Linked DNA regions of Homo sapiens. The protein of the gene in region 2 purifies or fractionates together with the protein of the main gene of each other region. This does not show direct contact. Each region holds a gene or a part of one and is shown on either strand. Other genes may lie near its edges. The genes, in order: MIA3, ANO6 and ANAPC4.

The links.
Region 1: the proteins of ANO6 (region 2) and MIA3 purify together in Homo sapiens (affinity purification with mass spectrometry; 2 studies listed by BioGRID and IntAct, with this or other methods). This does not show direct contact.
Region 3: the proteins of ANO6 (region 2) and ANAPC4 purify together in Homo sapiens (affinity purification with mass spectrometry; 2 studies listed by BioGRID and IntAct, with this or other methods). This does not show direct contact.

The regions. Positions count from the first base shown.
Region 1 is NC_000001.11:222,631,561-222,635,214, reverse strand, and holds part of MIA3 (transport and Golgi organization protein 1 homolog isoform 1 precursor), read right to left. Parts: intron 3,051-3,654; coding exon 2,889-3,050; intron 2,112-2,888; coding exon 1,966-2,111; intron 1-1,965.
Region 2 is NC_000012.12:45,222,523-45,226,176, reverse strand, and holds part of ANO6 (anoctamin-6), read right to left. Parts: intron 1-3,654. UniProt on the Homo sapiens protein: Small-conductance calcium-activated nonselective cation (SCAN) channel which acts as a regulator of phospholipid scrambling in platelets and osteoblasts.
Region 3 is NC_000004.12:25,415,172-25,418,925, reverse strand, and holds the end of ANAPC4 (anaphase-promoting complex subunit 4), read right to left. Parts: intron 3,527-3,754; coding exon of another isoform or gene 3,520-3,526; exon of another isoform or gene 3,461-3,519; coding exon 3,386-3,460; intron 2,502-3,385; coding exon 2,328-2,501; intron 1,311-2,327; coding exon 1,187-1,310; intron 772-1,186; coding exon 544-771; 3' UTR 428-543; downstream 1-427. UniProt on the Homo sapiens protein: Component of the anaphase promoting complex/cyclosome (APC/C), a cell cycle-regulated E3 ubiquitin ligase that controls progression through mitosis and the G1 phase of the cell cycle.

The DNA.
Region 1 (3,654 bases), on a different chromosome or scaffold from region 2:
TCTGAGACTGTCTTAATCCCTGAAAACTTCATTATTCCAACTGCAAAGATAATACACACCTTCACCCAGGTGGCTATCACCAGAACAAACATGAATAATACTGAAAAATGGTTTGGTTTTCCTACTTGTTTTCCATCCTGGTGGTCTTTCTCCTGAAACCCTCAGGTATTCAATGTCTTTATATGCCCTCTGACCATCCAAATGAGAATTAGGTGAGGGATGAGATCTTACAAAATGCCAGTTGCTACACCAGACATTTTACATTATCATGTCATTTAATTCTTACCAACAATTGGAGTATGTATTATCTAAATTTTTCAGATGAGAAAGTTGAGGTTCAAAGTTTAGTAATTTGCCCTAAACTTCTAATCGATAGCTTTGGGATTTGAAATAAAATCATCTTGGCTTGAAACCCATGGATTTTAACAGAAAAACAACAAGAACGCTCTTTCCTATTCGAGTCTTGAAATAACAGAACCTAAAGGAAATGGCTTTGGTGAGAAGCATACTTTCTCTGTAGCCCTAAGGGCAACCTGGCCTCCAACTTCAAGAGCTTGCTTAGTCCTCTAATTTACCAAGAAAAAAAGTCCAATTCCACCGAGTACCACAAGGGGGAGCTAAGTCCTAAAAAGCCTAGATAAGCTTCTAGACATTAAATGTCTCATTTGGAGCATGGCTCCCTTTAGAAAGATCTGAATAAATATTCTGCCATAAGTGACTCTTTCTAAGAAACAGACCTGACAATCCCTTTCCTGCTTAAAATCTTCCAAGGATCTCTGCCAACAATGGTCTGACCACTCACTATGGTGTACAATTTCCTTTCTGACTTTCCCTGAGTCCCTCCAACAGACCTTCTCCCTCCTAACTCCATACTTTTTTATTTTTATTTTTTCTGAGGCAGGGTCTTGCTCTGTCGCTCAGGCTGGAATGCAGTGGCACGATCTCAGCTAATTGCAACCTCTGCCTCCCGGGCTCAAGCTATTCTCCTGCCTCAGCCTCCCAAGTAGATGGGATTACAGGTGTGCACCACCCTGCCCAGCTAATTTTAACTCCACACTTTAACAACACCAACTGGCCGGGAATGGTGGCTCACGCCTGTAATCCCAGCACTTTGGGAGGCCAAGGTGGGCAGCTCCCATGGGCTCAGGAGTTCGAGACCAACCTGGGCAACATCACAAAACCCCACCTCTACAAAAAATAGCCAGGCATGGTGGTGCACACTTGTGATCCCAGCTACTCAGGAGACTGAAGCAGGAGGATCGCCTGAGCCCAGGAGGCAGAGGTTGCAGTGAGCTGAGATCACGCCAATGCACTCCTGCCTGGGCAACAGAGCAAGACCCTGTCTCAATTTAAAAAAAAAAGAAAAAGAAAAAACACCAACTACCCACGCTTCCCTGGCTTCCCCAAATAACCTTTTCTTCATGCCTCCATTTCTCTGAATGTGTTATTTCTTCTGCCTGACTGCATGCTGCCCGCCCCCCTGCCCACATCCTTCCCCTAGCCCTTCTATTTGACAACTCCAAGTCAAGCTCCCATCTCTTTCGAATCTGCTTAAAGCATATCTCAGCGAATTTCTGGCCTTTCCTATCACTCTCCCTCCACGATGAACCAATTTATGCCACAGATTGTTCTACCATCAGGTAAATACTTCTCTTCCTGCCCATTATCATGTTACATTTCAAGTGACTGTCTTTCTCTCCTGGCTAAACTGAAAGGTCCCTGAAAGGAAGAACCACGTTTGACAGGTGTGCTTGTGCCCAGCTCCAGCATGCAGCAAAGCCTCCTCATGTGCTGAACTAAGAGCCCATTAAAGCCACACACCTGTGGCTCATTTCAGGGTCTCTCTTCAAAGGATCAGGAGTCAGGTTCATAAAGACATTTTAAGTTCTTCACCTCATGCTCAAAATCAACTTAAAAACTGTAATAATCAACATTTTAGTTAAAAAAAAACTATGTTAAACTTACCGACTTAGTTAAATAAAACATGAATGAATATATTAGAAGGATTGCGTTTTCCAAAGGTGTGACACTTGCCGGCTCTTCGGCGGCTGTCTCTGGTTGCTTGTTTGCATCAATAGCATCCATAGGAGTGTCTTCTGTTGTAACTGGCCCTGGAATTGGGAGGAAAGATAGACATTTTGTGCTTTAGAATAAGAATTCTCTTTAAAAAATACTTATTGAGTATCCACTAAATATTAGGCACTGTGCCTGGAAAGTAAACGTTCTCATCTCTCACTGGATGTTTACTGTGCACTGTGGTGAAATACTCTTTGTGTCGGTCTATCCTGGACTATTACACACTACAGTGTTCTGTACTGTCTCCTATGAGCTTATGCTATAAACATACTTGGACCCCTTCACTGTATTTTAAGAAGTTTTACTTACCATGTCCAGATAGCAAATCAAAAAAAAGAACTGCATTGCATTGTATTTTATTTGGAAAGAGAGGGGTAAAGTAGAGGAAAAACAGAATTTGTGAGTTTTAGAGCAGTGGTTCTCCAACTGTAATTTGCATCAGGTCAGTCTTTCCTGGAGGGCTTGTTAAACACAGATTGCCGGTTCCACCCCCAGAGTTTCTGATGCTGCTGGGCTGGTTGAAAACTACTGTTTTAGAGCATAAGGCCTTTTAAGAATAATATTTTAGATTGAAATAATTTACACAAGATAGTGACAGCCAAACATTGGTTTGTAGGTTAGTTATAGTCTCTGGTGTCTTTCCTATTTTTGATCTCCATCTGTCTTGACGCCTGCTTTTCTCTCAATTAGCTCTGGGATCCTTTTTTCCTTTGAATTTAACAAGTCTCTAGCTCCTGCCTTTGACAATGAATCTCCTAGAAGGCCTTCTTTATGATTTCTCCACTTTGTAGAAAAAAATTAGCAGGCTTTACCTGGGTCCAGGTCTTTCTCAGTATTTGGCTTCTGTGACACTTCTGAGGCATGAGTGTCCCCAATCACACGTTGGTCCAAGTGGGTGGGTTCTTCAGGAACCTGCACATTAAGTTCTGCTGTCTTCTCTCGTGAGAAATTATCTTCATGCAGTGGTTGCATCTCTAGGGTGAGAAGAATACACTGGGCTAGCACAGCTTGATGACACTACCTGTTAGGCTAATCCCACTGACCACACCAGGGCACCTCAACATTGACCTCCATGCATGGGCATCCCATGGAGCACAACTGGGCAGGGAAATAAGAGTTTCAGTTTCTTTTATTCCATTTAAAGGATGACTAATCTACATAATAAAATCTACAGAGGAGTATTTCATAAATAAATACATTTATGGTAGGGACTTCAGTAACATCTTTCCTTGGCAAATCAGCCTACACCCACACAAATAAATGTGCAAATGAGAATTCCACTCAAGAGCAGAAATGTGAAACATCTATTCTGCAGAGAAGTAACATGAACTCTTGCATACCCTAGCATGCCTTTCTCACAGAACTAGTACAGACAGGGACATTCCACGCCAAGGCAGCTTGCTGAGATGTCTTTCGAATACTTTCAAAGTACCTCTAAGAGTCAAACAAAGTGAAGCCATCTCCTCTCCTAAGAGGCTTAGGGGACAGTCCAATGTGATCCACAGCAAAGGTGAATTTCCTTGTAGCCTCATATTTTACCCTGAAAATTCATCTGAATATTGCCTTCTTATCCAAAAT
Region 2 (3,654 bases):
TGCAAGTGTTCCATCTGATGTGTTTTGGCTGAACAGTATTTGAATTGCTCTTTGGTCCATGTCCAAAATATTCTATTGTTGACATACTCATCTACCAGTATTCTTCAAACTGCTTTTTGGGATGGATGCTAATTAATTTTAGTTGCAATGACCAAAATACAAAACTAAAGAAAAAAAAATAATGTCATAAGACAATCATTTGGCTGAATAAAATTCCTTCAATCTGTATCTTTACATATGATTTACCAATCAGTTGAGTAGTACATTTCGTTGGCTAAAGGTAATTGGAAATATTTTCTGTTCTAAAATTGACTACTCTTGCACAGACCCAGCCCTGAATTCATTATAATCAGACAGCTTAAATCATATGGCATGCAAAGCTTCCATTAAAATCTAAAAATGTCTCACGCCTGTAATCCCAGCACTTTGGAAGGCCGAGGCGGGAGGATAACGAAGTCAGGAGATCAAGACCAACCTGGTTAACAGGGTGAAACCCCGTCTCTACTAAAAATACAAAAAAATTAGCCGGGCGTGGTGGTGGGTGCCTGTAGTCCCAGCTACTCGGGAGGCTGATGCAGGAGAATGGCGTGAACCTGGGAGGTGGAGCTTGCAGTGAGCCCAGATCTTGCCACTGCACTCCAGCCTAGGAAAAAGAGTAAGACTCCATCTCAAAAAAAAAAAATCTAAAAATGTCCCAAAACATATGTTTTGTTGAACATCTACTATGTGAAAAACATTACGATATTCAGGCTGTGAGATACAAAGATGAATAAGAAATCTTCTCCCCGCTTCAAGACGAGTGTTTTTGGTTAAGATGTACAGCTAAAATACAAAATACACACCAAGTAAAGTGTAACAGAAGAAAACCTAAAGGATTAGAGTGAAAACTTATTAAAATACAATCATTTTAATCATCTGCTACAGATATCACTAAGAGATCAATATCATCCTTTAATTTAAAGCCAAATCGTGAGTTTTTTTTTTTTTTTTTTTGAGACAGGGTCTCTGTTGCCCAGGCTGGACTGCAGTGGCACAATGACAGCTCACTGCAGCCTTGGCTTCCTGGGTTCAATTGAATCTTCCACCTCAGCCTCCAAAGCAGCTGGCACCACAGGCATGTGCCATGCCCAACTGATTTTTGCAGTTTTTGTATAGATTGGGTCTTAGTATGTTTCCCAGGCTGGTTTCAAACTCTTTCGCTCAAGCAATATTCCCACCTTGGCCTCCCAAAGTGCTGAGATAATAGGCATGACCCATCATGTCCGGCCCTTTATTTCCGGTATTCTTAATCCTTTATAATCTCCCTTCAAGAATATCAGAATTAAAATCCCATATAACTGATGGAAATTTTCATAGGAGCATTTGGTCTAAATTTCTAGGCTCCCAAAAGAAAAAATAATAAATGTAGAGCAATCGACATATGTGACTGCTGCAACCCCTTGAGAAAAGACGAGTGTGTATACAGCTAAAATACAAATTAAGTAAGAGTAACTCTTATTCTTTTAGAGCTGTGTTTGTCTCAGAACCAAATAAAGTATTTTAAGAGGATACTGGAGGACCTTTTGGAAAGCTATTATTTGACTTGAAAGAATGTGCAAGATAAATCATGTCTGTGGACTTGAAACTGAAAATAACAAAAGGTTTATAAAAAGAAGCAAGACTATTCTAAAAGAGAGTTTGAGGATAGTTTGCTTTGTTTTTAGCTGTCATCTCCTTGGTAGAGAGTGTGCATACAGACACACACACACATATGTATATATAATGTATACATATTTATACATGTGTATATATTTATGATATGTACACAACATGATCCCCTTGCCATCGTGAATAAGGCCAGGGTGTATCAAGATTTAATTTTTGAGAAATCATCATGCCTTTAGAAACACTCAGGACGCTCTGCTGTCCTAGCCCCATGCCCTCACCTGTCTTTTCATCCCAACAGGGCTGGCTCAGGTGCTGCCCCAATAGAGCTGTCCTGGATTCCCCTAGGCAAGGTCACGTGCTTTCTCCTTGGTATCACCACTGAACCTGGTACAGATCTTGATTACAGTATTAATCACAAGTTACTGAAATTATCCGTTTCCTTTCTAGACAGTGAGGTACTAGAGAACAGTGAACCTGGAACCTAGCAGAGTGCCTGGTAAAATACATACACTCAGCATTTTTAGAACAGATAACTGGGGGTATCTCAAAGTGCCACAGAAGAAGAAAATTCTACTAGGGCCATAAAACCACTAGGCATTATGTTAATCAAGTTATCTTAGAAGAATAAATCATCCATTCCTTCCACAATTACTTGCTTGGCTCCTACCAAGGTGCCATGAGGGACACAGCTTAAAACACAAAACACACAAGGTACCAGTCTTCAGGGAGCTTACATTTTAGAGGAGAATGAGGAAAAGAGACAACTCTTAAAAATTATAGCAATGGAATATGTACAATATTTAAGATATTTTGCATGATCTCTAGAAGACTTAAATAACCTAGGCCAGTCACCAAGAAATGTACACTATGGTTATGGGAATGATAAACGCAAAGATAATGAATAACAAAGACAAAATACAGGATGAATGCTAACTGCATAGAACAAAAAAATAAGTGAGAATTCATTGTGAGCACTTTGGGCTAAGAGGATCATTAACAACTTTCTGGGTTTGTGACAGACTTGGGAGGGGAGGGAGGCTGTGAGCAGAAAAACACTAAGTGTTTTTTCTATTCTCTTATTCAACAATCAACACAGAAGACTTCAGTGACCAAATGTGCAAGGATTTCTCCCCAGCAACAAGCAAGCAATCAATTCTGCAGTGGATACCAGCTGGGTATCCTCCAAGTGAATTCTGACACTATTTACCTGGAGATGGTGTCAGATCCCACAGTTAAGGGTTCAGTCCCACAAAATTGCCCCCCACTACTTCTGATGCCAATCACAAGCCCCGGGTCATTTTACCTATGCTTCTGATGAACTGTTTATAAATTGGGGTTCCCACGACACCCTCCTTGGGTTCCATTAATTTGCTGTAGTGGCTTGGGGAACTCAGGGAAACACTTCCCGTTTACCAGTTTATTATAAAAGATAAAGATGAAGAGATGCATAGAGTGAGGTATGCGGGAAAAGGCACTGAGTTTTCACGCCCTCCCAGGGCAAGCTACCTTCAGGTACCTCCACTGTTCAGCTATCCAGAAACTCCCTGAACCAGTCCTCTTGGACCTTTATGGAGACTTCATTGGATAGTCATGATTGAACCATGTTGAAAAGTGATTGGACAAAAAGCATACGATTTAATACTAATAGACTGAATGGGGAAACCCAGCAAGGCCTGTCTGATCAGATTTTTCTGGCATCTCTGTGCAGCATTCCTTCCTCCAGGGTATGGGGCAGGATCCCTTCTGAAATGGGGGTCTTATGGCCTACATTCAGACAAGGTAGATGGGAGAATTTCTTTATGGGCAGTTCTCACACAGAAAGATGGGGAAAGATTATAGTTTTAGTTTCTAAAATTGGAGAGACAAAGGTAAAAATAGGGCAGGTCAAAGATGGAGATTGTTTTCTGAGGCCTGCTTCTGCTTCTGAGGCCTAAAGCACCCCAACATTATAGCAAGAGTTATGGTAGTTATAAGCCAGGAACCATGGACAAAAACATATGTGTCATA
Region 3 (3,754 bases), on a different chromosome or scaffold from region 2:
CATATTCAATTTGTTCACCTTCTCTCTTTCTTTTTTGAGACAGAGTCTCACTCCATCACGCAGGCTGGATGGAGTGCAATGGCGCAATCTCAGCCCACTGAAACCTCTGGCTCCCAGGTTTAAGCGATTCTCATGCCTCAGCCTCCCAAGTGGCTGGAATTATAGGGGCATGCACCACGCCCAGCTCATTTTTGTATTTTTAGTAGAGACGGGGTTTTGCCATGTTGGCCAGGCTGGTCTTGAACTCCTGACTTCAGGTGAGCCACCCACCTCAGACTCCCAAAGTGCTGAGATTACCAGCATGAGCCACCATGCCTGGCCCTGTTTTCTTTAAACACTAGTTCTGCACATAGCATTAAAGAGAAAGCTCAGAAAAAATAAAGTCTATCATAGTGACTATATCACTAAGAGAAGATGAAGCAGAATATGAAAAAATAAAATTTACTGTTTATTTCTTTGTTACACAAAGGTGGTCCAAGACATCTTAGTCCATCTCCTATGTCCTTTTGGCCATAATTACACACACAATAATGGCAAGCTAGATTAGGAGTCTAGCTCAGGGTCAAGTTTTTCCACTTTAATGACTATCTCTGGAGCTAAAGCGGCAGCACCAGCTTGTTGGTTCTCTGCCTCTGACTCCGACAACACTTCTTCCTTTATTTTTACAGGCTTATTACTGGCCTCCTCCTCTTCATCTGAAGACTCATCGAGCTCCCATTCATCATCTATGTCCATTTCAAATACTCTCACATGACGAAGATTTGAGCTTAACTAAAAAAGAAAAGGCCATAAAAGCATTTTTAAATTAATGGCTTATCATATATAAAGAATTAGAAATCAGAAGTCTGAATCAAAGAATGGTTTTATAGGAAAGTTATATTCCCATCAATTTACAACAAAATCAATAAATTCAGCCTTCATTTTGTATAAAAAGATCTCCACATAACAACAGTGGCAATTTCGTGAGATTAAAATCTAGTATTATTATTAACTACTTAGTAAGCTTTATCAGAACAAGAACTAAATAGCTAAGGCCACCACATGATCATAATCAATACAAGCTATAAATCACAGTAAAAATATTTGCACAAAAGGACCTTATATATCATGTATTTGATGAAGGTTCCAAAGAAGCAACGTTACTTCTTGTAATTTCTTAGTTGCTGAACGATCTCTAAACACTTACCACACAGGACACTTTTCGAAAACCATTCCCAGCAACATACTGTGCTTTCATACTTTCCAGTAATCTCCAGTGCTTCTCAAAATGCATGGTACGGGTGGGAATAGCACTACACTGTTCATCTAGCCTAAAGAGGGAAAAAAACCAACTCAGGAATGAAAAGGGGATCTTATCCTCCCTAGTTTTACTACAGGTGGTATTAGGGTCAATTATGGTTTTGACTTCTACTCATACTTCTATTTCCAATATAATTTTAGCAACTGTTGTGTTAGAAAAAAAGCTGTGATATAATATTCTATAAAAATTCCATATTCTATATTCTGGCTAGGCACAGTGGCTCATGCCTGGAATCTCAGCACTTTGCGAGGCCAAGGTGGGAGGATTGCTTGAGTCCAGGAGTTCAAGGCCAGCCTGGGCAACATAGTAAGACTCTATCTCTGTAAAAAAATAAAATTAGTCAGGCAAGGTGGCACATGCCTGTAGTCCCAGCTATGAGAGGCTGAGGCAGGAGGGTCACTTGAGCCCATGAGTTGGAGGCTGCAGTGAGCTATGATTGCGTCACTGCACTCCAACCTGGGTGACAAAGAGAGGCCCTGTTTCAAAAAAAAAAAAGAAAAGAAATACTGTAATTCCAAACAGGCAGAATATCATCTTAGCAAGGTTTCTGACTCCCTTTCAAAGAAAGCAAATGGATACATTTTTAAATTAGAGATCTGCTTACTTAAGTCTCAGTCAATTAAAGCCATCTCTTGGAATTGACAGTATACTTCCTACATGGGTACTGAGGTCTTAATTCTGGAAGGAAAATACTGAAGGCAAATCAAAAATAACTAATTCCAACCAACTAGGGTTAATGCTATCCTTAAAAATGTAACTAAAAGAAGTCCCATTATCCACTCCAAATAATTCCCCACCTTGATTCCAGCAAATACTTCCTGATTTACTAGTAAAGCAAAGGGACAAAAAAAGCTATTAAGGCCAGCATATTTTGAATGAAAAATTGGAGCATTTCTGCTCAGCTACCTCTGTGGTTATCTCTAGTAACGAAATAACCATTATCTAGCGTACCTAAAAGGTTGGAATTTATAATGTGCATTAAAAAAACATTTAACTGTAATATCAGAAAGACAATGTTACTAGTTACCTTGTAGAATAAGTCCCAGTGAACTGATATTCTGCAGAATCTTCACTGTTATATACTAAAGACAAAGGCAGCTGGACCAAGAGTCTATCTCTTCCTTCACGTCCTACAGTGTCTTTAAGAACTACTGTTACAGTTTCATCATCATAAAACTGTGCATCTAAACAACTGTAGATGCTAGAATTAAAATAAGTTTTGTTATATCAAAGATGATCGTGACTACTGAGAAAATATTGTATGCATGTTATACTGGCAGCAAGCAGAAAAAAATTTAAAAGTTAAGTGACATTCTGTACAATAACATTTAAAATATATCATTGGTTTGTATTAAAATCAGTTACTTTTTGTACTGATTATTCACATATATAACCAAATCTTAAAAATGGGTAATCATGACCCCCAAAAATCTGTGAAGTTGTTTCAGTTCTAGAAAGCCCCTGGCCATCAATGGTTAGGCCTTAAGCCTGTGGAAATTCTATGAATGACACCTTATATACACATTCAGCAGAGTTGACTAGACTGAGAAATAAAAATAAGATACTACACATGAAAAATAGGCACAGCAACTCCAAGGACTTTATCATAAAAAAACTTATTTTATGTGAGGAAAAAAGTGAGAAAAAGATCAGCCTATGATTAGTCACTTCTTTCCCTTGCGAAGCCTCAGGGATGGCTTAGGTACTGTTACCATTTTGAATCCTAAGAAAATCTCCCATCACTAAGAATGGCATCACCTCATAATTTTTTTTGGTCGTAACAAGAACTTCAGCCCTGCAGGCCATCTGCCCATGGGAACCACATTACTTTCTTTGTCAACAGGGAGCTCAGGAGTATTAATTATAGGAAACCGTACGACATAAACTGCAGGGCAGTAAGGTTCTATTCAATCACAAGTCAAATCATTCTCTATGTATAAATACACAAAGAATCCTGCCCTTGATGTGGGAAGTGGCAAAGCCCTTTTACCTATATTACCACCGTAACTGAGTCTGATCCTATTCCTAAACATATACACATATCACATGTATCTACATTTCATCCAAACAAGATTCAAGACTTACCTTCTTCTGACTTTTTCTGTTGTGGCATATGTAAAGCTCCCAAATTTAATAGCAATTAGTCCATTACTCACAGATCTTCAAGAAAGAAGGGGGAAAAAAAGAGACTCTGTGGAACAACCTGGATAGTCAATAATCTAAAGGCTTAAAAGAACATGATTGTCAGGGTCAGTACATGTACTTCTTTAGAACACTGAGAACTTGTTTAAATGCCTAGATAGATAAACCAATTTGGTTTAAAATCACACAGTCACCAAAGACATTTGGAATAGAAATAACCCAATTATTTCTTTTTGGTTACATCGTGGTCTCAACATTTTCTTCAAATTCAGGTTTAAAACCATTTTTAAGCTACCAATGGCGTTCTAAATA